Regions from separate parts of the Homo sapiens genome. Here region 1 is linked to region 2. Evidence: fine-mapped expression QTL. Tissue or cell type: whole blood. Region 2 holds a variant in brackets; the other region holds the start of a gene. All regions are shown on one strand. Distances are between the middles of the regions.

Region 1 (16,450 bases), 40 kb after region 2:
GGGAGGCTGAGGCAGGAAAATCGCTTGAACCTAGGAGGCAGAGGTTGCAGTGAGCTGAGATGGCGCCACTGTACTCCAGCCTGGCAGAGTGAGACCCCATCTCAAAATAAATAAATAAATACATACACACATACAAAAACGTGCTAGGCGTGGTGGCGTGCACCTGTAATCCCAGCTACTCAGGAGGCTGAGGCAGGAGAATCGCTTGAACCTGGGAGGCAGAGGTTGCAGTGAGCAGAGATCGTGCCACTGCACTCCAGCCTGGGCGACAGAGCGAAACTCCATCTCAAAAAGGAAAAAGAAAAGAAAAGAAAGTGAGCAAATAATATGAACAATAAAAATAAATATTAAAATGACCCTTAAACATATGAAAACATGTTCAATTCACTTGTAATAGAAGTACAAATGGAAAATACACTGAGATACAATTTCTTACCTATTAGATCAGCACAAATTCAAAAGCTGACAAAACACTGCTGGTGAGGCTGTGAGGAAATAAGCACTCTACTCTCATACACTGCTGGTAGGAATGCAAAATAGTATAACCCCACAGGATGAGGAGTTTGACAGTACCTAACAACTCTACATATGCATTTATCCTGAAGATGTATCTCTCCAACAATACAAAGATACATGTACACAAAGTTTTTCACTGTAACATCATTTGTAATTGCAAAATATTAGATATTACTTAAATGTTCAAACAGGACATTAGTCGAGAAAACTATGGTACATACACGATAGCAGTTAAGAATGAAAGTTACTGATTTTAGTTTATGTATTTTATCTTTTCACACAGCTACTGACTTGTTAGGAGATACATACTTATTAAGTTGTTCAGACCTAATTACTTAATAAATTAAACTGGCCAGGCATGGTTGCTGACGCCTGTAATCCCAGCACTTTGGGAGGCTGAGGCACATGGCTCACGAGGTCAGGAGTTCGAGACCAGCCTGGCCAGCATGGTGAAACCCCGTCTCTACTAAAAATACAAAAAATTAGCCAGGCATGGTGCCGCGTGCCTGTAATCCCAGCTACTCGGGAGGCTGAGGCAGGAGAATTGCTTGAACCTGGGAGGTGGAGGCGGCAGTGAGCCGAAATCGCGCCACTGCACTCCAGCACGGGTGAAAGAGCGAGACTCCGTCTCAAAAAACAAAAAACAAAAAAATTAAACTGTTAGGTGTTTCTTTTGACCTAGGGATGCTGTGAAAAAAATTACTGCGATAATAAGGGTGCCATGAATTGAGAAAGTTTGGGCACTTGACTGATAAAGGCCTACGAAGAAGGCCTTTAAGAGAGAGAAAGAATGTGTGTGTGTGTGTGTGTGTGTGTGTGTGTGTGTGTAGTTATGAGGTTACTGTGGACTGCTGTCAACAAAATTTACAATAGGCTAATGAAAGTACTCTCTCCAGTGTAGTTAAGAGCTGTAACAGATATTATGACAGCACATAAGAGAAGCAATCAGCCCAGTCTTAAAGGTTTTTTGTTTTTTGTTTTTTGAGGGATGGGATCCAGAGAGAGAACCTAATTGTAATTTTTTGGAGAATTATAACCTAAACTGAGTTCTGAAGGACCAGTAGGAGTATACTAGATTAGGGGAAGGAAGAGAGGCTAGAATTCCAGGAAGAGGAAATGGAGGACTGAGTAAACAAACACTAGCATTCCAGAAGCTGGGTATTGGTAGAACAAAAGATCATCCAAGAAGAGAGATAAGGCTAAAGGGTTAGGTAAGAAAAAAAATGAAAAATATGAAAGATAAAGGGGAAAAAAGAGAGTTAGGTAAGGAGCACATCTTGAAGGTTTTGTATATGAGATTAAGGATAAATGGAGTTTGAATTTTATTAATGGGCAAAAAAGAGCCACAAGAGGATTTTAAGCAGAGAAATATCACCATTGTTCTAAGCAAGAATGGGAAAAGTATCAGATGGGTTCCAACCATAGGCTAGAAGGCTGCTGTAGTAATCCAGAATATCTAGACAGGGCAGCTGAACTCAGTGTTTGGTCACGCAGTGTGGCAACCTCCACTTTTAATGGAGTACTATGTTAGCTTCTCAACTACATAAGAAAACAGATCCTGTGGCTTAGATGACCATAATCATAACTTTTGGAAACTGGGGGATCTTTGCCCACCTTCCCAATAAATCTGGGAGTATACGCCATTTTATAATCTAACTATGTCTTATTGTCCAAAATAACATTACCAAACCCTGACATTTAGTTTCAAAAGTAAATTCAGCAATAAAATTGGATCCCAGACTTTAAGGAGACTATGTATGTCAGTGTTACATCTATTGCATCTAATATAGGACCCTAGCTGTGAAGGCCTTTAAGAATAGTATAATTTTATGGAAGCATGCCTTTTTTGGCTTGTAAAGACTACCCTCTTGACTTTCAGAAACTAAGTCATCACCTTCACGTATAATTAAATCAAAGATGCAAATTCTCACCTAAAATTTACTCATACATATTTTAGAAACCCATAGAACTTTAATTTCTTTTTTTCTATACGGCAACCCAAATCCTTATGAATGCGATAAGGTAATAAGAAAGATGTCTTAAAGAAAAAACAGAATAACTGTTACTTATGGGGGCCAGACAATCAGCTGTTTTTTACTTAAGGGTACATCTTTTAAAAAAAAAAAAGAGAGAGAGAGAGAGATGGACACATTCTTCAAATTAAGCCTATTTAAAAGTGCATTTTAAAAAGTGCACAGGCTTAGGAGGGAAGAGAATTCTACCAGCACTGAATAGCAGCTAAACCCTTACAAGACTTCTGCCACTTTTAAGCCTCCATCTTAAACCCAGAGAAAATGATTAATGGTCTCAAACGGTTAAAAACAGACCAAGCACATCTCTGCTTCTTTTACCATTCTTTCTACTGTCCCCCATAGCTTCTCCCCCATTTCCATTAGTGAAAGAACGAACTAAAAAAAATGTGATTTCAAGGAAAGGTCACTACAAATAGATTTATGGTATTCCTCTCAAATAGGGACGATTCTGTTACTTTAAAAAGCACTAATCAAACACCAGAATTGAGTCCAAATACTTTACCGGGACACCCACGGGAAAAATGCCCAACCATTTTTCCATCATGGCACACATGGACGGTGATAACACTGTATTTGTAGGCACGCTGAAGATAAAAGAGAAGAATGGCTGCTGCTTGAGGCCACCTGGCCAGGACTGCTGGCAACCCCAGGCCACACTTGATGTCCAAGAGAGAGGAATCAGTATCTTCACCTTCCTGAAGCTCCAGTTCCAGCTCAGTCAGAACTGCCTTTTCCACAGCCATTTAGGATTAACTGCAATAATACTCAGTGCTCTCAGCAATTGTTACTTTCAAATCTAGGCTCTACTAAACACAAGCTAGGTGCCTAGCCTCTGGCAAATAACTTCAATTTACCTTAATAAAGTATGGGAAAACTACCTGTCTTGCAGAAGTGTTGTGGAGATTAGAAATAATTTAAGTAAAGCTCTTATCACAGTGCTCGGCAGGCAATCAACACATGAGAACTCTTATTACCAAGAGGGTTGCTGAATTAAAGAAGGAAAATCTAACCTCTGTATAGTGGTAATGTCACTGAGGTAAGAAATTGCTGGCTTCCCTCTCCTTAGTGTCTAAGAGTTAAAATATTTTATAAAACAATGAAAATCATAAACTGTCTCCTTCAAAATCATAGTCTTTTTCCTCATTAACATTCACAGCCTCTTATTCCAGTATTTTAAAAGTAATTGTCCTTGCCACTCATCTACTAAAGAATACAAATGCATATTACACTGATATGCATATCTACAAGAATTGACACTGGTACATGTATTTATGTTCTGTAGAAGCTAAGCTTGGAAAAACAGTGCAGGACCACCACCACATACTTGGAGAGGAGAGAAAACGTCAGCACTTTCTTCTTATTTGAACCTCCCTAATGTGAAAATAATCCAACCATCTACAGACAAAAATATTCCCTCACAAATGGTAGACAAGATTCTTTTCTATAATTAGCCCTTTCTTCCTTTGGAAAGCCCTGTGAAGAAAGTGTTGTAATGAAGTACTGCTTCAAAATAAATGATCCATATTATTGCACACTCAGCAAACACACTAGAGAACAGCATCTGGATCTTGGAAAATAAATGTAAAAGAGGCTATTGGTAAATCATGCCAAGGTCACATCAGGATTTCAGAGGATTGCGTGTATTCATGGGAAGAATGAACCACTATAAGCATTCTGGGAAGCACCACGTTATCCAAACAATGGTAACTCCTAATTTCCTCTTTTTCATTAAGATAGGGTACAGTTATCAACCCCAAACATAAACTTGATGTGTATCACCAGGCAGTCTCTTCCTACTAACTCTGAATATGCTCAAGTAGTAAGCATTTAACACTAGAATACAAGTTATAATGCCCAGCACAATTTTAATATAATTTTAACCTTTCAGAGGAGGATAGTTTTGGAAGGCAAAGAACTCTGACTGCTGAAGAATGAAACACGAAGTAAAGTCTGTAAGTGGCAAGAACCTAAAACAAAACAAACAGCCTAGCCCAACAAAAATAAGCAACTCCTGGATGGTGACTGTGAGATAACCTATACACTCATTCATTCAGTGCAGAAATGTGTGAACAGCTTCTATGTTCAAGGCATACTGCATAGAAACAGTCATAAGTAGGACATGGCTCCTGCCCTAAAGAAATCCAAGGTCAAAAAACGGTGTTGTCAGATAATACTTCACAATAATAGTGTATTATTTTAATACAGGAGTCGGTTTAGAATAATATTGTATTACCAGAGACAGAAAAACATGAGCTAATAAGACACACTGAAATACATTAATAAACATACTGTAAGAGTTTACCAATGAAATCTGTTATCCAATTTCTGGAATATGATTAAAGTTGCAATTTACTTTCTGGAAAAGAATTAACTTATGATACATGTTTTATAAAGGTTGTTCCCCCCCCACACCACACAATTTGTAAATTAGGTGCTTTTCAGCTTGACACGTAGGGCGTGGCACGGGACTTCTCACACTACCTCAGCCACACTTGGATGAGCTCTTACAAGTCTGGACATTCAGGTTTCCGAGCACAGGCCAGTTAACTCCCTAATTCTCCCTAAATCCTGAAACAACACTGCCACCCCTGTGTGCCGTCACCCCCGTCTACTTAAACACATATATCCAGGCTAAAGCATGCCAATCACATCTTCCACTTCTGGAAATCTTTCAGAAACGAACCACAGAGGAAACACCTCTCTCCCAAAATGTATTCTCTTCCTCATATTAGAAGCTAGATTACCTGAAAATGGGCTAAAGCTGTGCAAGCGCCCAAGGCCAGGTATTCAGTTCAGTGCGGAGAGTCTAATGACTTTAAGTCTGAAAAACCATTCCTTTAACTGGCAAAAAAAAAAAAAAACACAAACAAACAAAACAAACAAACAAAAAACCCTGGCGGAGATGCTTAAAAAGCAGCGGCTCTAGCACAGGCAAGGAGTGGAAAGAAAGGGAAGGAGGGGAGAGGGGTGGAGTGAGGCGCGGGGACTGCGGCGGCAGCGGGTTGCCCCAGGTCGCGGGCACCGCCCGGGCGGGAACTTGGGCGCCGTGGACGAAAGGTGCGGGGTGACCTTCGGACGAGGCCAACTGAGACCGGCTGCCGGGCGCAGGGGACCTCTCCGCAGCCGCTCACTCTCGGGGGCTCACTCGCCCCACAGCGGCGAACGCGGTGCCCCGGATTCCAGCCGGGCTCATCTCGCAGCTCGTCCCCGGGCAGAACGTGGGATGTGCAATCTCGGCAGCCCGAACCCGCGTCAGGGCCTCGGCCCGCCGCCGCCCGGACACACCCCCGCCGCCGCCCGGGTGGCCCCAGTCCCTCCCCGGGCGGCCCGAGCGGGCATCGCTCACCTGCACCGCGAGCCAGTCCGCCGCCCCGAGGGCTCCGGAAGCCGCGGCTGCGTGGCTCCGGCCGGAGGGTACTCGGTCCTTGTCGCCTGGAAGGCCCCGCGCCGGGAGCGGTCGAAGGAGGAGTCTGACGGGTGGCGGGGGAGCCTGGGCGGCTGGAGGAGGAGGAGGAGGAGGAGGAGAAGGAGGAGGAGGACTCCGACGCTTTGCTCTGGGGAGATCCACCCTCCTCCTGGCGGCTCTGCAGCAGCCGCCACAGATCACTTCCGGGGCGCTGGGGAGCGGGGCGGGGCAGCTGGGGAGCGACTTCCTGTCCGTGGGCTGAGAGGAGGGTGATCATGGGCCTGGGCCGCAGAACAGTGGCTCGGAGGGCGCAGGCTGCCCGGCCTCCGCCCCCTGCAAGCTGAGGGCTGTCCGCGCTGTCTTTCCGACGGCCCCACCCCCGGCTCTCTGAGCTCCGCGAGGTGAAGTCATCTCCCGGGGGCTCGGGAGTGGCCGCGGGCCTCGCGGAGGTTCCCGGATCTCGGCGTCGTTGCCGCGGTGTCCTTGTCTTTCTTTTGGGGACCAGGAGGGGGTTCTTGGGGGAAGGAGGGGAGAGCGGAGGCCGCCATCTTGCTTCTAGAGGGTCAGCTCATGTTCCCTGGGCGTCTCAGGGTTGAGGCCGCTCGTGTGGCGTGGCCGGGGGTATTCAGAGCGGAGCTGGCGACGTGGCTTGTCACGGGCCAAATCCCAGGAGGCGGGTCAGCCGCCTACCCTGGCTGGAGGGTCTCGTGGCTGCCCTGGGCCTCATCTAACTGCTGATCCCCTGGAGAATTCGCTTTCTCGGACGGTCTGCGAGTTCTTTCTGAGGGGTGTCGGACCCCCCTGCGACTCTGCAGGTGTCGGTGTGGCACTGAGATCATCTTGCGGCCCCATGGCACTGTGATTTGGTAGCTTGTGAGAAGTAGTTTCACTAAATCCGTAAATTTAAGTTAGCAGCTACAGATTCTTATGTCTTGACATTTATTCGCTTATCTCTCTTTGCTCCCCACAAATTGAGTACCAACTATATTCCTGGTATGAGCCATTCAAGGAATGTCCAGTCTAGTGGGCAGACATACATGAAAGCAAATCATTGCTATTGGAAGTATGGTTTATCAAGATGTACAGCGTGAAGAATGGATAGCTTTACTAACGTAGGTTAGAGTTTTAAAGATAAATAGGCATTTTCTACTACAAAAATAGGGGTGGGATGGCAAATCCGGATCCGAACAGAAAGGAGATGCAGCACGGGGACAAATAATTTGTTGAGAAGAATGAGTAATAATTACAGGTCTTGAAGTTCAAACTTAGGTTGCTGAAGAAGATGAGGCTGGAGAAGAAAACAGGAGCCAAATCACGAATCGTCTATGCCTTGGTGAGGCAATGAGTGGACAGATTACAATTTAAGCTATTCTTCTGTTGGTAGAGAACAGATAACTTGGGGGGGTGGAGGTGGGGGGGCAGAGAAGGATAAGCAGAGAGCCCACAAGGGGGCCATTGCAGAAGCCAGTAAGAGAAAACTTAAGGACCCTGTGTGAATGGTAGTGAGCATCCAAAGGAGATGGATTCCTAAAATATTCAAGAGGCCATATCAACTGGTAATTGGTTGCTAGGGGCAGCTGCCAGATAGGAGAATGGAAGAGGCAATGATGATGCCTTGTTTTGCTTTGAGGGAGGGGCAGGATAAGGGTGTATTTTACTAAATAAGATAAGGAAGAGTTAGGATGAGTCCTGGGAGGGGACATTTTTGCAGAAAAAAAATGAGTTCAGTTTTGGAGTTGATGAGTGAAGTAAGAGTGGTGCTGTCTAATGGTGGTTGCTATATGGGTCTAGAGCTCTAGGGAGGAGCTGGGCTGAAGTTGGAAACACCACAGGTTTAGATGACCATAACCAAGCTGACTGCAGTCTTACGTCATTGAGCACAGTTTCAAAACCACTTCTCCTTTCTCCCTGCCTTTACTTGGGAAAATTACTGAAATACTGCATTAAAAAACCCAATATGGTGATATGTGTCCATCCATAGACCAATATTCTAATGTTTAATGGTCTTCTAAGGACCCTAAAGGTCAGGTTTAGCAGAAACTGGATGTAACAGTGGTAACTATTAATAGTATAGCATCATTAACTCATAAAATGAAATATTATCTATGTTTATATTTTAATATTTTAATTTTTTTCTTTTTTATTCTGTAGGAATTGCTCCATTCCAATAAAAATATTTTAAATTTAATCATTGACAACAGTTAAGCTGGCCATAGGCTGAGGATTGAGGATGGTGGGTTGCACAAATATCTGCTGAATGGAGAGCTAGAAGGAGGATGACTTCAAGAAGAGTCAGCAATAGGAACGCAATGAAAGACAACCTCAAATTCATTAGTCAGCCTGTCTCAGCTGCTTTTTGGTGGCTCACAGCTATGCTAACCTAGCATAAAGCAGTGAGAAATAGAATACTTCATTTTGAGCAGAGCTTCAGAAAACCACAAATAGTAAAAGCCCTATAAATAATAGCTACAGCTGCAAACCAAAGACTAATTATTAGTTTTTAACTCTATATCCCTGTAGAGCAGCATTTTTGAACACACAAAAAAAGAGAAACGCGTTCACTTACGTCTTAGATTATTTAAATACAGTATTCTCAATTTGTCTAGGATAAAAAAGCATTTAGGTGTATTGAACAACCATATAATGGATAATATACTGAACAGGAAATGAGAATAATTAGCTTGAGTCCCTTTTTTGTCAGTTGTTCACCGTATGACCCTAGCAATGTTACTTAACCTCTCTATGCCCTAGTTTCTCTGACTGTAAAATAGAGATAATAATAACTTTCTATCAGCCGCCTCTCAAAGATATTATAGGAAATAACAAATTAATGCTATGAAAGCTCTTTGAGGTACTTGGATGAAAGGGCATAATTGTAAGTACATATTATTAGTAATTAGCACTAATATCCAGTAGCACCCATGAGCATTCCTGACTTTGCTGCCTGGATTACTCAAAGAACATGAAGGATCCTGTTTTGAAATACACTTAGATCTTTTTTCTTAACTTGTGAATTGACTTTACTATTTATGATCAAACCTTGTGTATTAACAAATATAGTTAATGAAAGAGGGAAGTAAAAAGAAGTTTTGGTAACCACAACTTTTATATTCATGCTACTCATAGCTAATATATGCTTTGGGGGAAAATACAGGGTAGATAGGGATTTGCCAGAAGCATGTTTTAGAATTAATGATTAGTCTACTCCAGTCAGTTAACTGGAATTTTGTATTAAAAACATTATTCATGTCCCCATAGAATAATGCAGTCCCTATAGAATTTATAGACAGTTACATGTTTGACACAATTAAGTTGAACATTCCTGTGAAACTCTGTCATTCTCATCACTGTTTAATCACAAACATGTAATGAAATATATAGACTTGTGAAGTTTTGTCCAATGTCTATCCCTAAAGTAGATGAGAATTTTTTCCATTAAATTGGTGACTTCAGTATTTCCTTTAGAGAGGTGTATGCATAATGTAAACATTTAAATGTATTCATGACTACATAATGTGCATGTTTATTTTTATACACTTGCTTATATACCAATTTATAAAATTATCATATAATGTATATTAACTATACATCTGGGAACAGCAATGACAAACAAGGCTTCTTTGTGTTTTAGGGCCAGATAAGAAAGTAATTGGTTAATAGCCATTTGTCACCACTGGTGAAAAATCAACTCAAAATCATGTTTTATTATTTATTAGAGTTATGAGCATTATCTATAAGATTCATGACACCATGACTTGGTGTGGTGGCTCACACCTGTAATCCCAGCATTTTGGGAGGCCGAGGCATGTGGATCGCTTGAATACAGGAGTTAAAGACTAGCTTGGACAGCATAGGGAGCCCTCATCTCTATTAAAAAAAAAAATTAAAAAAAAACAACACTAGGCAGGCATAGTGGCATTCACCTGTGGTCCCAGTTACTCAGTAGGCTGAGGTGGATCCCTTGAACCCAGGAGGTCGAGGCTACAGTGCCTGTGATCATTACACTGTACTGCAGCCTGGGCAACAAAATGAAACCCTGTCTCAAAAAAGAAAAAAAATTCCGTGACACCTTGACATTTGTACTATTTCATTTTGTTTTCACAATTTTGTGAGATACAAATTGTTGAAAGAAATAGGCTCAGAGTGCTGAAAGACTAGCGCTCTGAGACTAGTTTTTAAAGACTTAAAAATTCACTACAGTTGTCAAGTAACATACCCAAACACACATTTTGAGATTCTCAAAATATATTGTTTCTTTTAGTACTTTATACCAGGGTCACCAGCTTGATATGACAGTCCAGAATGTATTTATAATATGGACATTTCTGGCTTATTATTGATTGCCTGCAGCATCTCCAAAATTCAGCCAAACTTAACGTTTTTAAAACTGAAAACTACAATTCTTATGTTTATGGCTGTATCTTTACCAGCTTGAAGACAGGTACATTGTTTTATTCATTTTTGTATCCTTCATGGTGCCCAAAATAAGTACTCAGAAAATATTTTGGGGATGAGTAAAATGTATATTGTGATGTTTAGTTGAATTAGCGGGAAAAAAGCTGATACAATCACCTCAGAAACTTTTTTAGGAGGTCGTACACATTTTCAGCACATTCATGTGAAGATAGTTTATTTGGGTTTGTACTTTAAATTGGTGGAACCATTGCCTCAATTTCCCACTTCATTTTTAATGACGTCATGCCTTGGAGAGATAGGCTTAAGTAGGTGATGCAGATGACAGTCACCTGTATGATATGCCTCTGGATATGTTTGTTGGGCTTAGATAGTCCGGATGACCCACAACAAAAGGGTCATCTAGAATATCTAAACACAGCTTTAATGAGAATGTGTAAAGAGTGGGGTTATGAGAGTTTGGGTCTTCATAATTCTCCCCTTCATGCCGACGACCCTTGTGGACCACATATTTCTATACTTTTCTGTCAAGGGATTAGAGGATAAGACTACTCTATCAGTGGTTCCCAAATGTGACTGCTTATCACAATCACCTGTGTAGTTTCAAAGGCAATTCAGATTCTCAAGTCCCACTCTAAACAGAAAATATTTAGATTTAGGATTAGAAAATACTGGGTGAAGTCCAAGGCATCTGTAACTGTAATAACACTCTCCCTTGAATTCCAATGATCAGTCAGGTTTGGGAAGTTCTGGTTTCAATAACTTGTTCAAGGTCACACAGAACCCTAAATAGAGCCAGAAACTAACTCAAATCTTTTGAGTCCAAGTTAAATATATTTTCATTGGACTCCTGCTGTCCATTTACTGACAATATATGATGGGGTAGGATGAAGAGGTGGGGAGAAAAGTAGCAATTTTAGTTTTTTCATTTTTATTTTTTACCATATTCTATGACATGGTTTTAAGATTAAATGAGCTAACATCCATAGAGTGCTTAGAACAGTATCTGGCACATGGTAATTAGGTGTAACGGTTCAACGAATAAGTCTCCATTGTCCAGTCATGGCATTCACTTTGCCTGGGGTTACATTAGGTAACATTTTATTGGATATCGACTTTTTCTATGAAGAAAAAAATGTATGTAAATAAAGGTGGAATCTTTAGCCTTTATTTGTCATGGAAGCCCTGAATTTGTATAGCTGAAAATATTTCTATATTGTTTCTTTTCATCTTTTCTGATATATTAAGAAAATGTTAATGATATACTTATTAAATAAAATTGTGGATGTATAGCTGTGTAGTATTTTTATATTATCTAATTTAGCATATAAGATAAGGTATTTTACATTGTCTTCCTATCACTGAACTAGCTCCAAAATTGATTCTTATTGGTATGTAATTAAGCATTTAGTTTTTAGAAGTTATTGTTTGGATTGATCTTCCAGATGAAATATTTCCCCTTAACGAGGTAATAGATATACGTGGCTCTATTTTATTCCCTTATTTCTCTGCAAGTTTTTCAGTTTTTCAATCTTGAACAACTTTTTACACTTGTTAATTATAAATAAAATTATGCATTTTCATTACTAGTAAGGGAAGAACCCAATTTAATACTTTAAAATGCTCTTTGATACATTTGGACAAAGTCTGTGAAAATATGCCTTTGGTCAGTCCCTGTCACTATGAAAATTGACATCCATTTTTGTTTTTATTCAGTTTTATAAGTTATATTATTTTTGAGGGATTACCCTATACCCAGCATCAATTTCTAGTGGCTCCTGTAATCCCAGCACTTTGGGAGGCTGAGGCAGGAGAATGGCGTGAACCCGGGAGGCGGAGCTCGCAGTGAGCCGTGATCGCGCCACTGCTCTCCAGCCTGGGCAACAAAGCGAGACTCCATCTCAAAAAAAAAAAAAAAAAAAAAAAAAAAAAAAAAAAAAAAAAAAAAAACCAATTATTGTATTATAAATGAATTGATTTATCCTGGAAAAAGGTAGAAGTAGTGATAGACCAGAACAGAAGATATTTATAACCTCAGGAGGTATATGGCAGGTAGAGTAGATCAGACTAATGGAGAAGCTAGAAAAAGAATCAGATATCATCAGTGATGAAGCTCCTAACTATTTGAATCCAGAGTCAGCCAAGGAAATGGGGTTAAATTACCACTTGTGAAATATTTGCAGTATTTCAGACATTGTATAAGGCACTTACCAAAACAAGAAATGGCTGGCTAGGTCCCATGAATCTAGGTAGTTTGAGTCTTGAGAGTCAGAGAAAATAGTAATAGTAAACAGGATATTTATATTACTCTATATTTCTACACTTATATACTTTATTATAAGAATTCAATTAATAATAACATGAGTGTGTGTTAGTTACTACTTATAATCAAATTAACAAGTTTTGAACTATACTCATTCCTTCCTCCATTCTTTTTACAATAGAGGCCATCATTCAATGCGTATTCTAGGTCTTGGCTACTCCTGTCTAGTTGGGACCTTGGTCCATCAATTATTCTCTTTCTGTTGTGTCTTCAGCCTCTCACTCTTTACTGGTTTCTTGCCATTAGCATTCTCATTTGTTAAAGTGTCTTCTTCATGCATATCCTCCTTCTAGCTTCTGCTCAAATTATCCTTTCCCCTAAGGAGAATTTTTGAGAAAATTGTCTATGCTTGCTTATCACCAATTCCTCACCTCCAAGTTACCCTCAACCATATATTAGACTTTTACCCCCAATACTGCTGTGAAACTACTCTTGATAAACTTACCAACATCATTCCTATTATGAGATATATCTTAGTTGTTAATGTTTCAATAGTATTTGAAGCTATTGACCATTTTTTCCTTTCTGAAACAATCTTTTCTCTTGGCTTCTGTGATACCATGCCTAACTGTTTCATTGTCCTTTGCATGCTCTGTCTTTGCTTAAATATTGCCACTCCAAGGAATTGTAAGGCTCTTATCAATGTAGTCTAGTCTCCACATTCTTTTTGGATGATCTCATCTACACCCATGGTTTTATACACCCATGGCTTTACTTTCTGTATATTGGTGACTTCTAGCTGTGAGCTCACTCCTAAGCTTGAAACCTATATATTTAATTCCCTATCTGATATCTCTTTGAGTGTTTTGTAGGTACCCAGCTCGAACTAGGCATGTCCAAACTGACTGATGATAGCCAAATGATCAAAGCCAGAAATCTAAATATTTGCTTTGAATTTTCTCTCTACTTCTTACACATCCACTCATTTACCAGGATATGCTAAATCTTCCTCCTCATTATATCTCAAAATCATTCATTTCACTCTGCTTCTATCACCACGTCCCTAATCCAAGCCATTATTACCTCCTTACTATTATTGTAGTATAGATTCAATGGGTTCAGACTTTTCCTGCTCTAAACGCAGTCTTCACTGTGCAGCCATCATGATCTGGGAGGCAAATACAACTTCTCTGCCTAAACTACTTTAATACTTCCATTAATCTTAGGATGATCTGGAATGGCTTGTTTGTCTTTCTTACTAGGAGGGCAAGAACTCTGTTTCATGTACTGTTATCACCCCCATATTGATTGGCTCAATATTGATTCTTTTAAGATGAATCATGGGAAAATATTATGAAGGAAAGTGCCCTGTGTGTTAATCAAGATAAGCTAGGTTATATTGCAGTAGCAGAAAACTTCAAAATCTCAGTGGCTTACCATCACAAAAGCTTATTGCTTGCTCATGCTACATGTACAGTTTGCTAGGATTCTCTCCTTTTCACTGTTACCTAAGAACCTACCTGTTGGAGGCACCAAGTGACATGTGTTTTCACAGTCACTGCAGGTGACTGCCAGGTGCATAGAACATGGCAAATCTTGCACTGGCTGTTAAAGTGACATACTTGCACTCATAATTCATTGACAAAGCAAGCCACATGTCATGCCTATTCAAAGTGGATAATCAAACCATATATCTGAAAGGAAAGGGAAACATAAACATTTGTATGTAACCCAATGATATCATACCCTCTTAGTTGAGACTCTTTTGCTTGCAGATGACATAAAACCAGCTCAGTCTAGCTAAGGGATGATGAGAAAAATATCCCTTCAAATTTAAAAAGGGAATGAAAGACCAGTGTGGCAGCTCTTGCCTATAATCCCAGCACTTTGGGAGGCTGAGGTGGGAGGATTGCTTGAGGCCAGGAGTTTGAGACCAGCCTAGGCAACTTAGCACAACGCTGTTTTGTTTTTGTTTTTGAGATGGAGTCTCACTCTGTCACCCAGGCTGGAGTGCAGTGGTGCGATCTGGGCTCACTGCAACCTCTGCCTCCTGGGTTCAAACAATTCTCCTGCCTCAGCCTCCTGAGTAGCTGGGATCACAGGCGCACGCCACCATGCCCAGGTAATTTTCATATTTTTAGTGGAGATGGGGTGTCATCATGTTGGCCAGGCTGATCTCGAACTCCTGACCTCAAGTGATCCTCCCACCTTGGCCTCCTAAAGTGATGGGATTACAGGTGTGAGCCACAGTACATGGCCTCATTTATTTAAAAAAAAAAAAAAAATTAGCCGAGCATGAGGGCCCGCAGCTGTACTCCCAGCTACTCAGGAGGCTGAGGCATGAGGGACTGGTTGAGCTCAGGAGTTTAAGGTTACAGTGAGCTATGATTGCACCACAGCACTCCAGCCTGGGCAATGGAGCAAGACACTGTCTGTTAATCAAAAGGGGGTGGGGAGGGGAATCATAAGACAGCAGATCATAAACTGAAAAAATTCAACAACTGAAAATGCAGGAGTATATCTGGGCCTCAGTGATAACTGGAACCAGGACTCTTCCTCCAAATCTTGTCTCTGTTTTGTAGGTTTGCTTCAGTCTCCTCCATTTCAGAATGACTGACTGTCCATATGGCCACTGATATCTCCCAATCCTCATACCTCATGGCTGCCACGACACTAGAGAGGGCTAGATGTCTTTCGGTTTTGTTTTTCCAGTTTCTTTAGTAAATCCTGGGTTGGGACTCTGAATGGTTTGGTGGGAGTCATGTGTCCACTATTAGACTGGTGATCTATGAGCCAGGAAACAGAGTCATGGGGCACAACCATGGTGCCTGCCACCCACCCCTCAAGGGGCCTGTGATGGTTAATTTTATGCATCAACTTGGATGGGCTGTGGTAACCAGCTATTTAATCAAACTCTAAGTATGGACGTGAAGGCATTTTGTATATGTGGTTAACACCTGCAATCAGTTCACTTTAAGTAAAGGAGAATACCCACAATAGTGTAGGTCAACCTCATCCAATCAGTTGAAGGCCTCATAAGCAAAAACGGAGGTTTCCTGGAGAAGAAGAAACTCTGCCTCAAGACTGCAGTGTCAACTCCTGCAGAGCTTCCAGCCTGCCCTGTGGATCTATGGATTTTGGATTTGCCAGTCTCCACAATTATGTGAACCAATTCATTAAAATAAATCTAGACAGCTATAGATATATCTATGTATCTGTGTCTGGAGAGCTCTGACTGATACAGAGACAATTCCAGGATATGACAGAATCATTGTAATGCGAGCCAGGTGGCTACCCCAACCGAGTATCGGTGACAGGAAGAGAGATGATACACTGAGGAATGGGAAAGAAAAAAAGGGAGGTGGGAATAAGAAAAAGTACATGTGGTAAATAACATTAGAATGTAGCTACGCATTGACTCATAGAAGACTAGCTTTAAGTTACAAAACTTTGTCCTAATGCATAGTGAGTATTCACAAAACCATGATAAATATATTGAAATTGTCATCCCTTTCTGATTTAGATTATTCCTTCATTTTGAATTACTCTGTCAGCAGATGGCATGTTTTCTATAATTCATGTCTTACCATGTTTTATTTTTCTTATTTAACATTCTACAACTGGTGGTTTTATTTTCTAAGTAAATTTATGTCACCTATTGCTGCTACAGCAAATTAATGCAAATTTAGTGGTTTAAAACTAACAAAAAAAAGTTTTATTTTACAGCTCTAGAGGCCAAAGTCTAAAATGGATTGGCAGGACTGTGTTCCTTCTGAAGGCTCTAGGGCAGGGGTCCCCAACCCCCGGGCCAGGAACTTG
Region 2 (16,450 bases):
CTAGCAGGCTTTTTTTTTTTTTTTTTTAAAGAGACAGAGTCTCGGTCTATCACCCAGGCTGGAGTGCAGTGGTGCTATTATACCTCACTACAGCCCTAAACTCCTGGGCTCAAGCAATCCTCCTGCCTCAGCCTCCTGAGTAGTTGGGACTACAGGCACGCCTGGTTAATTTTTTTCTATTTTTTTTGTACAGACAGGGTCTCACTATGTTGCTCAGGCTGGTCTTGAACTCCTGGCCTCAAGTGAACTTCTCACCTTGGCTTCCCAAAGTGCTGATATTATAGGCATAAGCCACCGTGCCTGGCCCACAAATGAAATATTTTAAAAGAAAAATCTAAGCATAGCCTCTGGTTTACATGAAGACATCTGTTAAATCCCACTCTTTAACACATGTTTCATCTGTAAGTTGGCTCTCTTTGTATAGCTGCTTCTCTGATCTTTTGGTATGCTTCTGGATTTCCTTTTTCTTTTTCCTATGACTATATTCTGCACCAACATGTATTTATTGAGTCAGGTACTATGCTAGGCATTGGGAGAGGGTGGGGGATAGGTTCATAGGTGAGCAAGTCAAGATCCTTGACTTCAAAGATCTTAAAATCAAGTACAGAGATGGAGCAAGAGGGGGAGGGAAAGGATGTATTAAATTCTTATACATCATTTTGCCTTTTGCATTCCTTACTACTTACGTCCCACTTGTATTTTTATTTTATTTATTTATTTATTCAGACAGAATCTTGCTCTGTCGCTAGGCCGGAGTGCAGTGGTGCGATCTCGGTTCACTGCAACCTCTGCCTCCCAGGTTCAAGCGATTCTCCTGCCTCAGCCTCCTGAGTAGCTGGGACTACAGGCAACCGCCACCATGCCCAGCTAATTTTTGTATTTTTAGTAGAGATGGGGTTTCACCATGTCGGCCTGGATGGTCTCGATCTCTTGACCTCATGATCCGCCCGCCTTGGCCTCCTAAAGTGCTAGAATTACAGGCGTGAGCCACTGCGCCTGGCCTTACTTTATCTTTTCTTTTCTTTTTTTTTTTTTTTTGAGATGGAATTTCGCTCTTGTTGCTCAGGCTGGAGTGCAATGGTGCGATCTCGGCTCACCACAATCTCTACCTCCTGGGTTCAAGTGATCTCCTGCCTCAGCTTCCCGAGTAGCTGGGATTACAGGCATGCGCCACCATGCCCAGCTGATTTTTGTATTTTTAGTAGAGATGGGGTTTCTCCACGTTGGTCAAGCTGGTCTCAACTCCCGATCTCAGGTGATCCACCCACCTCAGCCTCCCAAAGTGCTGGGATTACAGGCATGAGTCACTGCGCCCAGCCTTATGTTGTTTTACTGACTTCATAGCTGTAATTTTTAATGGCTATGTAATATATCATCCTGTAGACACAAAGCAATTAACTTACCATAAACCATAATATAAGACATTAGAGCTGTTTTGAATTCTTCAAAATTATAATGGATGACCACCTATTTCTACATTTAAAGTACTTTCCATGAGATAGACTCTAAGAAATGGAAAATTAATAAATTGACTGTTTAAGGTTTATCATGCACATTGTCCAAATGCTTTCTTAAAGTGCTGTACTTTAGCACAGTAACTATGCTAGTATTGCTAGTATCCCTACTGGCATTGTGTATTCTTTTAAAAAACCTGCTACTTGTATACTGTGAAAAATATCTCATTGTTATTTCTAATTATATCTCTGATTTCTTAAAGAGGGTGGATACTTTTTCTATGTAGTATTTATTTTGTGAATTGCTAGTTCTTATCCTTTACTCATCTGGCAATAATATCTTGTATCACATTTTGTGTAATTTCATGTCACCATTGGCTAGACTTTCTTTTATCTTGCTCTCCCAGTCCACTATAGTAAGTTTCCTCCGTTGTTGGGTAGATCTGCTTCTCACAACAGATCAGGAAGACACTTTAAATTCACTGGGTATTTAAAGTTTCACTTTAGGTTCATGGGCAAGAAACAGGTTGACAGATTGGCTCCTTCTCCAAATATCAAAAGAATAGAGTTTACCCTGGGTTGTTAACATGTTCATTAGAACTCCTAGTCCTCCCAGGCTGTGAGTTCAAAAAGAAATGTTTTTCGAAATAGATTTCCAAAATTAGCATGGAACAGATGTTGCTGCAATCTTTGTATGGGCTGGTTGTGTGGGCAGGATATCAAGCTAGCTTTTCACTTATATTCCTTTAATTAATAGCAAGTCCTATCATCTCTTCTGCCCTCTGTTCCTATTGACTCATTGCTTAAAGTCTCTTCAGGACTCAGTGGGGAAGAAGAGATTCCCCCTACAGGCCTCCCTCACGGGAATGCTGGGTAGCCCTTCCTTCGCCCTGCTTCATCAATCAGCACCATCTGTCTTCTGTCTTCTACAACCTAGAAAGTCTCTGCTTTGCTGATGGTCACTCCATCTGTTCTCATTCTCAGTGCTATTACAGAATTACAAATTTCTGTCTGTAAATTCTTTTTCCTGTCTTTTCACAGGGAGTTGGGGATAAGAGGAGGTAGACACATATATTTAGTCTACTGGCTTTCATTACCATGAACTTGAGTTAAAATCCTGAGTTGACTTGATTTGGAACCCCAAAATATTTCAAATTTAGAAAGTATAAAAAAAATTCCAAGACATTCAATTAAAATTAGCCTGAGTTTTAAAGAATACTATTTTTCAATACCAACTTCAAGAGTAAATCAGTTTTCTGATATGGATGACCAAAGAATCATAAATAAACACAAAAGTTTAAGATGGGGCAAGACCTGGCATCAAAAAGAGTGGGAGTGAGGCAGAAATAGGAGAGAAGAGAAAGGAAAGCTAATGGTCTGAACTGCTACAGAGAAGGATTGAAGTGATTTTTTTCCCCAAAAATGTTTTTTTTCTTCAGCATTGGGACAAGCTGGCTAAAACTCAAAATTTATAAGAAGATGTATTGATCAAAGCCTTGAAAATTAAGCATTGACATTATTTTTACAAACCAGGAATGTAAAGCTAAAGACTGACTCTATAGCAACAAAGATTCCCTTTGTGCCAATTAACCTTTACTACAGCTCTTTTACAGACCACCTGCTGAATTCTTACTTTGTGGAACTGCGGGTGAATAGCCAATTCTTTTTAAGGAGTAACAGCGAGCAGCTAAGAAGAAAGAAAGAAAATATAAAGTAGTAATCTCTTAAATTCTGACTTGTATATGTGGCACCCCACATCCATCCAGTCAGGTTAACCTCTTAGTATGTACTGTTAAGATCCTTCCTGTATAAGTAAGGCATTGCGAATGTCACTTTTTAAATTTAAAGAATCCCTTTGGCACTGAATATAAAATATATTACCTGAAACTATGTTTAATGACAACTATTATCAGTTACATTCTCCATCACAAATCTGTTTAGCACAGACTCACTTCCACAGGTGATCTTGAATGCTGTTGAATACGCCTAATCCTACCATTTGAGTTCATCACCTTCCAACACACACAGGCACAGGTGGAACTTGAGCTCCTCCTATCCTCAGTGTTTTTTCATGACTATAAAAGTAACATATATTCATTATATATAACTTAGAGAGTAAAGTCAGAAAATGTCACCTTTGTGGCCCTGACACCCAGTATACATTTTTTTTGAATTTTTACTCTCTTCTAGGACTATCTTAAACAAAGTAGTCAACCAGTCACAAAGTTCAGCAAGCTAAGAGAAAAATTCCAAGGAAAGCAGGAAAAAGAAAGAAAAAAAAGGGAGATTAAAAAATCCAAATAACTGGATAGGACAAAAACCTTGGGGAAAAATAAATATCTTCCTATTTATTGAGTGCTTATTCTGTGTCAGACACTTTTTCAACTGCGTACTTAATTATCTCATGAAACCCTCAAAACAACTTTAGACCTATCATTCACATTTTATAGGTGAGAAAATTGAGCCATATCAAGCTTTAAAAATGTGCCCTAGGACACACTATTGATGTGAAGCCAGGATTAAAAAAAAAAAATTCACATCCTAAGTGTTTGCCAACTAAACTTTATCACCACTATGGAAGAAACTAGTAAGAATGACCTTACACAAAGGTTAGAGGCAATTTCTCTTAAACATAAAAAGATAATTCTCACGGGTGGCACAGAAAAGCTACCCAAATCATTTTATAAGGTCAGTGGTATAAAATAGCGATAATCACACCAAAAAAAAAAAAAACTACATTGCAGTCTCATTTATGAACAGAGAAATTCCATAAAATACCAACACCTGAAATTTACCTCTCAGCACACAAATAATCCATTACTGTATAGTGTGTTATACAGTCGACTCTTGGATAACACAGGGATTGGGGTACTGAACCAACTCCCCCAACCCCACTGTGTGCAGTCGAAAATCCAACTTTTGACTCCCCCAAAACTTAACTACAAATGCTTATTTGACTGGAAGCCTTACCAATAACATAATAGTTGATTAACACATATGTTATATGTATTATATACTGTATTCTGACAATAAAGTAAGCTAGAGAAAAGATAATGTTAAGAAAATTTTAAGGAAGGAAAAATACACTTACTAGTCATTAAGTGAAAGTGGATCATCATAAAGGTCTTCATTCTCATCATTTTCATGTTGAGTAGGCTGAAGAGGAGGAGGAAGAGGAAGGATTGGTCCTGCTGTCTCAGGGGTAGCAGAGGAAAAAGAGGTGGAGGAGGTGGAAAGGAGGCAGAAAAAGCAGGCACACTCATTGTAGCTAAAGAAATGCATTGTAATTAGACTTTTTTGCTTTTTCATTTTTCTAAAAATGTTTCTATGTGGTACCAATCCTTCTTCCACCATTTGCTTTAGTTTTAGTGCTTGTATCACGGAAGAGTCTATGTTGTAAACGAAGTCAAAAGCAGTCTTGAATAATAAGAACCCTTCTGCTAGATTATCTAACATCACTTTGTTTTATGGGTTTGCTTCTTCTAGGACTCCTTTCTCATCACCTGGCACCAGTTCAGAAGCATTGATCTCTATCAAGCAGACTTTTGTTCCCCCTCCCACTATTTTTTTTTTTTGGCACGTCCACCAACTCTTTCAAGATTTCCTTGACTGGCTATGTCATAAATCTTGTGAAGTCATACACAACATTCGGACACAGTTTTCTCCAGCAGGAATTTATTGTTTGGGGCTTAATGGCTTTCACAGCTTTTTCTATAACAATGATGGTATCTTCAATGGTGTGAGCCTTCTAGGCTTTCATGATGTTCCTCTATTGGGGTCCTCCATAGTACTGACATCCTTTCCACAGAGTGCTGTGTGTAATGAGCCTTCCAGGTCCTTACAACCCCCAATCTAGAAGCTGAATTCAGAGACGTAGTGTTTGGTGGCAAGTAGACTACTTCAGTGCCTTCAGTTTCGACCTCATAGGGTTTGGGGTGGCCAGGGGCATTATCCAATATCAAAAGAACTTTAAAAACCAATCCTTTACTGGCAAGGTACTTTCTGACTTCAGGGACAAAGCATTGATGAAAGCAATCCAGAAAAAGGGTTCTTGTTGTCCATGCCTTCTTGTTGTACAACAACCTAAAGACTGGCAGCTGGTGTTTATCTCTTCCTTTCAAGACTTGGGGATTAGCAGCTTTACAGATAAGGGCAGCCCTGATCATAAACCCGACTGCACTTGCACAAAATAGTAGTTAGCCTATTCCTTCCTGCCTTAAATCCTGGTGCTTGCTTTTCTTCCCTACCAACAGAAGTTCCTTGTGGCTTTTAAAATTTTTTCCAGAAGGGCAATTTTGTCTGCATTAAAAATCTGTTCAAGCAGATATCCTTTCTCCTCAATGTTTTTCTTAATGGCTTCTGGGAATTCACCTGCTGCCTCTTGGTTGGCAGAAGCTGCTTCTCATGTTATCTTGACATTTAAAAAGCCAAACCTCTTTCTAAAATTATCAAACCATCCCTTGCTGGCATTAAATTCTCCAGCTTTAGATCCTTCACCTTCCTTTTGCTTTAAGTTGTCATATAATGACACTGCTTTTTCTGGAATCACATTGGAGTCTACAGCTATGGCTTTTTTTCGTTAGACCCAGGGACAGATTGGAAAGGTATGCCTTTCTTACAGCAACCCTGCACCCTCATAAAAGCTGAATTTTCAATTTGATAAAAATGTATTTTGCAACAAATGCAAAGCTTTTGTGCCTGCTGCTGTAGCTGCAGTGAAGGCTTCATATATTTTTTCTTTTTTTTTTTTTTACAATGTCCCTTACTCTGGATTCATTCATCTTGAAATGATGGGCAATCACAGCTGAAGACCTCAATCTATGGTACATATCAGGCAATTAAACTTGTTTCTTGTAATGTTGACTTTTCTCTGCTTCTTGGGAGCACTTCCAGCATCACTAGTAACATTTCTTATGGGTCCCACAGTGTTATTTAAAGTTTACAGTGTTGTACAAACACTACATTTACTGGAGAGATGAACTGCTCACACAGAGATAATTAGTGTCACATGGCATTTGAAGTAGGTATTTGCAACATTTGAGCTCAACAATAGCAACAGGAGGTAGTTATAAAATTATTACAGTAGTATCATATGCACTACACTTAATTTTATGCAGTTATAATTTAATACTGAATCTTTACATTGGTTTACATTTCTCTTGACTGCAAATGGCACCACATATAGTTGTGTTTGTATGTGATATGATTTGGTTGTGTCCCCACCCAATCTCATCTTGAATTGTAGCTCCCATGATTCCTACATGTTGTGGGAGGGACTCAGTGGGAGACAACTGAATCATGGGGGCAGTTTCCCCCACACTATTCTTATGGTAGTGAATAAGTCTCACTTAGCTTGGCTCTCTCACTCTCTCATCTGCCACCATGTAAGATGTGCCTTTCACCTTCTGCCATGATTGTGAGGCCTTTCCAGCCACAGGAAACTGTGAGTCTGTTAGACCTCTTTTTCTTTATAAATTACCCAGTCTTGGATGTGTCTTTATCAGCAGCATGAAAACAGACCAATACAGGAAACTGGTACTGGTAGAGTGGGGTGCTGTCGTAAAGATACCCAAAAATGTGGAAGCGACTTTGGAACTGGGTAATGGGCAGAGATTGGAACAGTCTGGAGGGCTCCAAAGAAGACAGGAAAATGTGGGAAAGTCTGGAACTTCCTACAGACTTGTTGAATGGCTTGGACTCAAATGCTGATAATGATATATAGACAATGAAATCCAGGCTGAGGTGGTCTCAGATGGGAGATGAGGAACTTGTTGGGAATTGGAGTAAAGGTGACTCTTGCTATGTTTTAGCAAAGAGACTGAGAATTTTGCCCCTGAACTAGAGATCTGTGGAACTCTAAACTTGAGGGCGATGATTTAGGGCATCTGGTGGAAGAAATTTCTAAGCAGCAAAGCACTGAAAAGGTGACTTTGGTGCTGTTAAAAGCATTCAGTTTTAAAAGGGAAACAGCATAGAACTTTGACAAATTTGCAGCCTGACAATGCAATAGGAAAAAAAAGCCAATTTTCTGAGGAGTAATTCAAGCCGTCTGCAGAAATCTGCGGAGCCAAATGTTAATCACCAAGACAACGGGGGAAAATGTCTCCGGAGCCCAATGTTAATCACCAAGACAATGGGGAAAATGTCTCCAGGGTATGTCAGAGACCTTTGTGGCAGCCTCTCCCATCACAGGCCTGAGGCATAGGAGGAAAAAATGGTTTCAAAAGCTGGGCTAAGGGCCCCCCAACCCATGCTGTGTGTAGCCTAGGGACTTGGTGCCCTACCTCCCAGCCACTCCAGCTATGACTAAAAGGGGCCAGGGTACAGGTCGGGTTGTGGTTTCAGAAGGTGCAAGCCCCAAGCCTTGGCAGCTGCTTCCACGTGTTGTTGAGCCTGTGAGTGCACAGAAGTCAAGAACTGAGGTTTGGGAACCTCTGCCTAAATTTCAGAGGATGTATAGAAACGCCTGGATGTCCAGGCAGGGGCAGGGCCCTCATGGAGAACTTCTGCTAAGGCAGTGCAGAAGGGAAATGTGGGGTTGAAGCCCCCCAACAAAGTCCCCACTGGGACACTGTCTAGTGGAGCTGTGAGAAGAGGGCCACTGTCCTCCAGACCCTAGAATGGTAAATCCACTGACAGCTTGCACCATGAGTCTGGAAAAGCCACAGACACTCAACATCAGTTCATGAAAGCAGCCAGAAGGGAGGCTGTACCTGGCAAAGCCACAGAAGCAGAGCTGCCCAAGACCATGGGAACCCACCTTTTGCATCAGAGTGACCTGGATGTGAGACATGGAGTCAAAGGAGATCATTTTGGATTTGACCACCCTGCTGGATTTTGGACTTGCATAGGGCCTTTGGCCCCTTTGTTTTGGCCAATTTCTCCCATTTGGAATGGGTGCATTTACCCAATGCCTGCACCCTCATTGTATCCAGGAAGTAACTAACTTGCTTTTGATTTTACAGACTCACAGGCTGAAGGGACTTGCCTTGTCTAGATGTGACTGAACTGTGGACTTTTGAGTTAATGCTGAAATGAGTTAAGACTTTGAGGGACTGTTGGGAAGGCATGATTGGTTTTGAAATGTGAGGACATGAGATTTGGGAGGGGCCAGGGGCAGAATGACATGGTTTGGTTGTGTACCCACCCAAATCTCAACTTGAATTGTAGCTCCCATGATTCCCAGGTATTGTGGTAGGGACCCGCTGGGAGATAACTGAATCATGGGGGCAGTTTCCCCCATACTATTCTTTTGGTAGTGAATAAGTCTCATGAGATCTGATTGTTTTATAAGGAGTTTCCCTTTTAGCTCGGCTCTCTCATTCTCTTGTCTGCCACCATGTAAGACATGCCTTTCACCTTCTGCCATGATTGTGAGGTCTCTCCAGCCACAGGAAAAGTTTGAGTCCATTAAACCTCTTTTTCTTTATAAATTACTCACTCTTGGGTATGTCTTTCATGTCAGCAGCATGAAAACAGACTAATATAGTATGCATGTATTTTGATAAATTTTAACTTTTTATAAGATTTGTGTACCTGATAGTAAATAATAAACTAGTATCTGCATATATTTAATGCATTCATGATATACCTATCTTGTTTTCAATATTTCTAGGTTATACAGCTCACCTGCAAGTTTTTTCAAATTGTTGTAAATCTGTAAAAAAATTTCCAATATATTTATTGAAAAAATCTGCGTAAGTAAACTATTGTGGTTCAAACCTGTGTTGTTCAAGGGTCAACTGTATTCCAAAAATGCAATATTAGATTAATAGTAAGCATAAAAATACAATCACATGAATGGGCCCAATAAGAAAATCAATATAATCAATGCAAGTGAAAAGAAAAAGTTATGCAGAGAAGGCAAATTCATTAAAAAAAGAGAGACAGAAAAGAAATAAGCATTGGATAAAATTCAATATTCCTTCTTGATAAGAATTCTTCTGAGTTAAGCACTAGAGACTGCCTCTTATAAGTGTTATGTATTTCTAAAGAAATGGATCACAAGTGGGAGTCATTTTACAATTTTTTTTTTTTTTTGAGATGGAGTCTCTGTTGCCCCAGCTGGAGTTCAGTGGTGTGATCTTGGCTCACTGCAACCTCTGCCTCCTGGGTTCAAGCAATTCTCTTGCCTCAGCCTCCCAACTAGCTGGGACTACAGGTGCACACCACCACACCCGGCTAATTTTTGTACTTTTTAAGTAGAGGTGGGGTTTCACCATATTGGCCAGGCTGGTCTTGAACTCCTGACCTTGTGATCTGCCTGCCTGGGCCTCCCAAAGTGCTGGGATTACAGTCGTGAGCCACTGTGCCTGGCCTTAAATTGTTTTTAATTAAAAAAAAA[A/T]TTTTTTTAAAGAGGGGGCCATGGGCAGACAGATTCAGACTCCCAGCCACAGGCATCCAAGGGCCAAGAGCTGCACATAGCTCCCTTGGAGAGCATGTTCCTTTTATTACTATTTTTTGAGAGTCATTTTTATACAGGAGCCACACTAAACTTATCTGTATTTTTAAAAAATATACATGCCACTAAAGCAAGTGCAACTCATTTTTAAGGAATGCAAATTAGAGAGAACACGCTAGTGAGAGATAGAAGGAAGCTCAGAACTCTTTTCTGGGCTTTAGTACTCCTTTCTGCAGTGGCCAATGAATTAACAGACAACTTTTGCTCATATTTTTGGGCTTATTTAGTGCCTATTTACCCAGAGATTCCAAAAACAGTGATTAATAATAACACACAAATTACCAGCAGTGAAGGGAGACAGATGCTGTTCAAAGAAACTCCATTTTCTCTTGGCTACGATAAAATTACGAATCATGTAGGGTAAGCTGCATTGTGAGTCATAATTAAGTTAATAACGAACTACAGCCTGCTCACTACTGTTAACTCCTTTTCATGAAAGATAAAAGTGTATCTGAAAAGTAAAAAATCTTAAGTTGAAGTTATACAAAACATAACGTGAAGTTACAAACTAGGGGAAAAAAAAAAGACTTGACAATTCCCTGAAAATCATAAAACATCTTGTAGCACTTATATTTTTCTTCCTAAGAGTACTGAAAAATCTAAATTTAAGATTTGATCATATTTATTTTTTATTTTTGAGACAGAGTCTCTCTCACTTGCCCAGGCTGAGGGGTAGTGGTGCAATGCAATCTCAGCTCACTGCAGCCTTGACCTCCTGGGGTCAAGCAATCCTCCTGCCTCAGACCATTTCATCCCCACCACAGCAGCACCACCATACCTGACTAATTTTTTCGCTGTGTTTTTTTCTAGAGGGGTTCTGCCATTTTGCCCCAGGCTGGTCTGGAACTCCTGGGCTCAAGTGATCTGCCTGCCTCGGCCTCCCAAAGCGCAGGAATTACAGGTATGAGACATCACACCCGGTCCATATCTTAAAATTTTAAATAATAGCAATTTATGAAGTCATAGACTTAAAAGTTTCAGTTCATATCAGACAACTGATTACACCAAAAACATATGCATCTGTATGCAGTCTGCTTGAGGCAGGCTCGGTGGCGCACGCCTGTAGTTCCAGCTACTCAGGAGGCTAGGGTGGGAGGATTGCTTGATCCCAGGATTTTGAGGCCAGCCTGGGCAACGTGGTAAGACTCCATCCCTAAAAAAAATTAAAATAAAAAAACTAAAAATAGCCTAGAGGGAAGATTCGCTTACAGGTGTTTTTAACCAGGAGTATGACTCAGAATCAGGTTTTTAAAAAATGCATTTACTCTGGAACCATCCATGAAGATCCTAATTCACTGGTCAAGGATGCAGACAGTGTGTGTGTATATATATATTTTGTAAAAAACTGCCTAGGTAACTGTAGTTCATATCTCTGGTTAAAAATCATCACTGTGTATATTTATAAAGTGAAACCATATAAAACTGCAAACATTATATATATATATACATACAAAAACAGCAGTTTCATATGGTTTATCTAATAGAAAGTGGCTAGGGGATAAAAATATCCAACAGACTGAACATACTACTTTGCACCAGTGCTCTTCACTAAGTTCTTTATACTAGTTGTTCGAAGTATTGATAACACTAGGCAAGAAATGGGCAAAAATATACCCAGACTTTGTAGGGGGAGGTGAGAGGGTTGGAGAGGCAGCTGAAGGAGAAAAAGGAGCAAAGTCATGGATGCCACAGTGCAAACCACTGTTATGTCTAGGATGAAGACCACTGGGGTTAATGATGGAGTGAGATGGTAATAGAAGACACCAGAGAACATTAATTTAAGACAAGCCCTGCATTTAGCAACTGTCTGTGTGCTCAAGAAAGGGACAACGCTCCTCAGTCATTTCCAACATGTCTTAACATCAAGAATACGGACTAGAATGCATGTGCTATTAATACTCTTAACTCAAAGAAAGAGAAGTAGGAGGAAGAGTACCCTCTCTTTAAGGGGCTTAGTGGGTACAGTCATGGCTCATCAGGAATGAACTAGTATCACACAGGCTGGGCATCAGGCCCATGCACAAGTAAACCTCCAGTCTTTTAAAACTATCATTAAAAGACAATCATATTTAAAATTGAAATACTAAACACATGCACCTACATTCAAACTAGTGGTTGGAAGCAGAATTGTAGCATTTCATTAACATTTTTTTTCTTTTTTTGTGGAGACAGGCTCTTGCTGTGTTGCCCAGGCTGATCTTTAACTCCGGGGCTCAAGCAATCCTCCTGCCCCAGCCTTTCAAAGTGCTGGGATTACAGGTGTCAGCCACCATGTCTGGCTGCATTTCATTATCACTTAAGGCTTACAGGCCTCAATTAATATAGAGGACAGGTTAATGACCAAAAAGATAATGTTTAGAAGGTCCAGACCCCACAGAAAGTAGGGCTTTCCTGGGACCGTCTCCAATACAATATCCTTCAGTATACTAGTCTATTTCTTTCCATTTTACAATTTTTAACAAGTTGCTTTTATGTTTACCTAGAAGTTTCATTGAACAATTTTTAAAAGTAAACATAATGAAATTGAAGAATCACAGAAGGAAGCCTTAAAATAATCCAAACCCTTCATTTTTTATATGAGGAAATAAGGGTTCGATAAGAGTTACATCACTGGCATGAAGTTCCAGAGAGTTGTGGTGGAGTTAAAATGAACTGGGCTGGGCGTGGTGGCTCATACCTGTAATCCCAGCACCTTGGGAGGCCGAGGTGGGCAGATCACCTGAGGTCAGCAGTTCAAGACCAGCCTGGCCAACGTGGTGAAACCCCGTCACTACAAAAATACAAAAACTACCTGAGCATGATGGCAGGTGCCTGTAATCCCAGCTACCCGGGAGACTGAACGGGAGAATCGCTTAAACCCGGGAGGTGGAGGTTGTAGTGAGCCGAGATCACACCACTGCACTCCAGCCTGGGTGACCGAGCAAGACTCCGTCTCAAAAACAAAACAAAACAAAAAAACACAAAAACAAACAAACAAACAAAACTGGAACAGAGCCAGGATGGTATGATCCAAGAGATTCTATATATCCATGCCAGGGTAGTCAGATGTGACATCACTGGAAACTCCCCAATGACTTCTGAAGTGAACATCCCTTACCCTCATCCCTTCACTTTATCCCAAAATCCAGGGTCCAGATCAAGAGATGGGCTGAGCATGTTTGTTTTACTTAGTAACTGGTACCCACTTCCACATTCACCAATCTGTCATGCTGGAGGACTGAGTTTAAATAAATGAGCCAGAGTTCAACTAACTTCCTTCAGGATTAGCCACAATATAACCTAACAGTTTCATGTTATGCCAGGTGTTCAAAAACACGGTCTTGTTGCACAGTAACAGGTGCTGTATGAAGACAAAGAAACTTGTTACAATAGACTCTTAACAACAAGGCATTCTGGTTGCCAGATAATTGGCTGCAGCTCATAAATTACCTTTTTTTCCTTTCCTGGGTTCTTGTTCCTATCAAAAATCAGTAGTAGCCTCATAGAGTCATAACTAATCCCAAATTAGTGAGTCTTAACTCTAAAGGATTGAAAGAAAGACAAATAAAATGCTAATGCTCTTACATGCTATAGGATTTTAAATTGAGAAATAGCAAACATGAATAGATGGGACCTGTATTTGCTTAATTCCAGTAGACTAAATACTCTGGCCTAAATAGAGTTGTCAATCTCATAAACCCAAGAAATACTCAGAAACAAGAACATTCAAGTAACTCTGAATTTTGAATTGCTAGTTACAGTTCACTTGACAGGATGCAACTATAATGTACAAGGCTTGGGAATAAATTTAAGATATCTGAATAGGGGTTTTGACTCTGCCACTACAAAAAAACTATATACTCACTAAAACACCAAAGGGACTGATGCAAATCCCCTTAGATAAATACTGCCTGCCTTTTTATGTAAGTTCAGCTGATCACAATAAAAAGTGAAATTAGTTTAACTCAGCTTACTTAAAATTCTTCAGAGACTCCACATTGCTCATAGGTGAAAATCTAAATTCCTTAATTCTGCCCCTGCGCATTTCTTTTTTTACTCCTCTCCCCTTAATCCTTATATGCCTTGATCCTGATGTATTCTGTAATTTCTATTAATAATATAATTGTGGAAAATTTGGGGAAGTTTGGGTTAAATTATAATAAGCAAAGTGAAACAATGATACCAAGTAAGGTTAACAGACTCTGTAGGGACTGGCATGACATAACTCAAAGAAACAGAAGATATACTTGAAGTGAGTTTACAACAATCAATTATTTTCCAAATGCTATATTCAGATCTACATACCTTTTTAAGAAGAACAATAAACTGGAGTTACAGTATGAAAAAAAATTAAGAAATGGGAAAAGAAAAACCTTGGTTATCAAAAGCTTATCTAGCCACTATGTTATTCTATATAAATTTTAGAATTATATTTGGAGCAGCTTTATTGAGGTACAACATACGACAAACTGCACATATTTAAGCCTGTTCAACTGTAATCCCTCCCTTTCCTTTCCCTCCATCTCCCCTCCATACACTGATCTGCTTTCTGTAAATATAGATTAGTTAGTACTTTCTTCAGTTTCACATAAAAGGAATTATGCAACATGTACTCTTTTATCTGGCTTCTTTCAGTAAGCATAATTTTGACATTTATCCCTGTTGCTTGTATCTATAGCTCATTCCCTTTTATTGCTGAGTAGTATTCCATGGTATGGATATCTTACAATTTGTTTATTCATTCACCTGTTGATGGACATTTGAGTGGTTTGTAGTTTTCAGCATCTGCTGACAAAGGTGCAAAAGGCAATTCAGTAAAGAAAGAATCACTTTTTAAACAATGATGCTAGAACAATTAGATGCAAAAATACAATTGCAAAAAAAGAATTTAGAGGCTGGGCGTGGTGGCTCATGACTATAATCCCAGCATTTTGGGAGGCCAAAGCAGGAGGATTGCTTGAGCTCAGGAGTTCAAGACCAGCCTGGGCAACATAGTGAGATACAGTCTCTACAAAAACTAAATTAGCTGGGTATAGTGTGGCACACGCCTATAGCCCCAGCTGCTTGGGAGGTTGAGGTGGGAGAACTGCTTGGGCCTGGGAAAGCGAGTCTGCAGTGAGCCATGATCACACCACTGCACTCCAGCCTTGGTGACAGAGCAAGATCCTCTCTCAAACAAACAAACAAACAAACAAACAAAAATTTAGATTCACATATACACCATATACAAAAAAATTAACTCAAAATGGATTGTTTCTAAATGTAAAACCTAAAGCCACAAAAGTTCTAGAAGAAAGCATAGAGTTAGGCATGTGACCTTGGGTTAGGCATTCGATGATTTCCTAGATACAATGTCAAATGCAAAATCTATGAAATTGATAAGTTGGACTGCATCAAAATAAAAAACTTCCAGTCTTTGAAGGTTAAGAAAATGAAAGGATAAGTCACAGACTGGGAGATAATTTTTACAATTTAAAACTAAAATTACTGAGGAGAAGACAAAAAGAGGCAGATTTGGCTCACTAGCAAGATCTTTCCAATTACTTATTACTGTAAAAACTGGAATAAACTGTCTGTAAGCCCCATCAAAGAATTCAAACAGATAAAGAAAGAGGATTGGAGACTGAGCTGATTAAATTCAAATACCTTCTTATTCTATAAATACATATTTTAGCCATTTCTAAGACGACCAATTTAATGCATATTTGATAACATATTATTCAATGGTGAAAGAAGCAATTATGTTCTTGATTCATACAATTCAATAAAAATGTTTTCAATTAAAACATTTTTACTGATAGGGTGATGTGACTGTGTACATAAAGGTAAAGAAAGTTGTTCAAATAGAACCCCCTGTGCAGTGTCCTCTGCCTTCCAATTGCTCTCCAGCCTTCAATGGGCTTGTTTCATTGTTCCCTAGTATTCTGGATATAACTTCTATCAGTGCTACTCATCAAATTAATTATTGGGAGCTGAGAGCTATCTTTCTCAGTTCTGTAATCTCAGCATCTAGCACAGTACATGAAAATAACTAGTACATATTCAGATGGAAAAAAACCCTAAACTCTAGAAAATGATTTTGGAGAACAGTTCATCAGTATTGGCAAAATTCTGAGACATCCACCCAGGAGGAATAGGTACTCTGCTTAATGCTGTTTTATCACCTGGAAGTACAATGTACTACAAACAAATTAAATGCTGGTCTCAGAAGCTATAAGCTACTACAAGACTAATGTTCAAAAAGGTCCTAAAAAATAAAATGGAATTGTGAGGGAGAATTCTGCTGAGCTGAGGTGACACTTCATATAATTATTCTAAATAAATAAATTCTAAATAAATTATTCTAAATAAATTATTACAACTAGGTAGGAGGATTATAGGAGCTCAGGAGTTTGAGACCAGCCTGGGCAACATAGCAAGGTCTCATCTCTACTAAAAATGTTTTAAAAATTGGCCAGGCATGGTGGAACACATCTGTGGTCTCAGTTCTCAGAAGGCTGAGGTAGGAGAATGGCTTAAGCCAGGTAGTCAAAGCTGCAGTGAGACATGACTGTGC

What was found.
Region 1: RALA starts here. The variant in region 2 is fine-mapped to the expression of RALA in whole blood (INTERVAL, PIP 0.92).

The regions. Positions count from the first base shown.
Region 1 is chr7:39,613,271-39,629,720 of GRCh38, reverse strand. It overlaps RALA (RAS like proto-oncogene A), which reads right to left and starts at 6,149. Exons shown (of 5, transcript NM_005402.4): 1 at 5,896-6,149. LOC107986785 (a long non-coding RNA gene) reads left to right here and starts at 6,244. Exons shown (of 2, transcript XR_001745175.2): 1 at 6,244-7,288; 2 at 8,107-11,660. RefSeq lists silencers at 4,946-4,995, 5,590-6,099 and an enhancer at 5,426-6,273.
Region 2 is chr7:39,653,386-39,669,835 of GRCh38, reverse strand. The region is part of intron 1 of RALA (RAS like proto-oncogene A); the gene reads right to left. Among named protein-coding and RNA genes, the nearest start is that of RALA, 38 kb to the right of the region's middle. The variant A/T (reference allele first, on the strand shown) is at 9,799.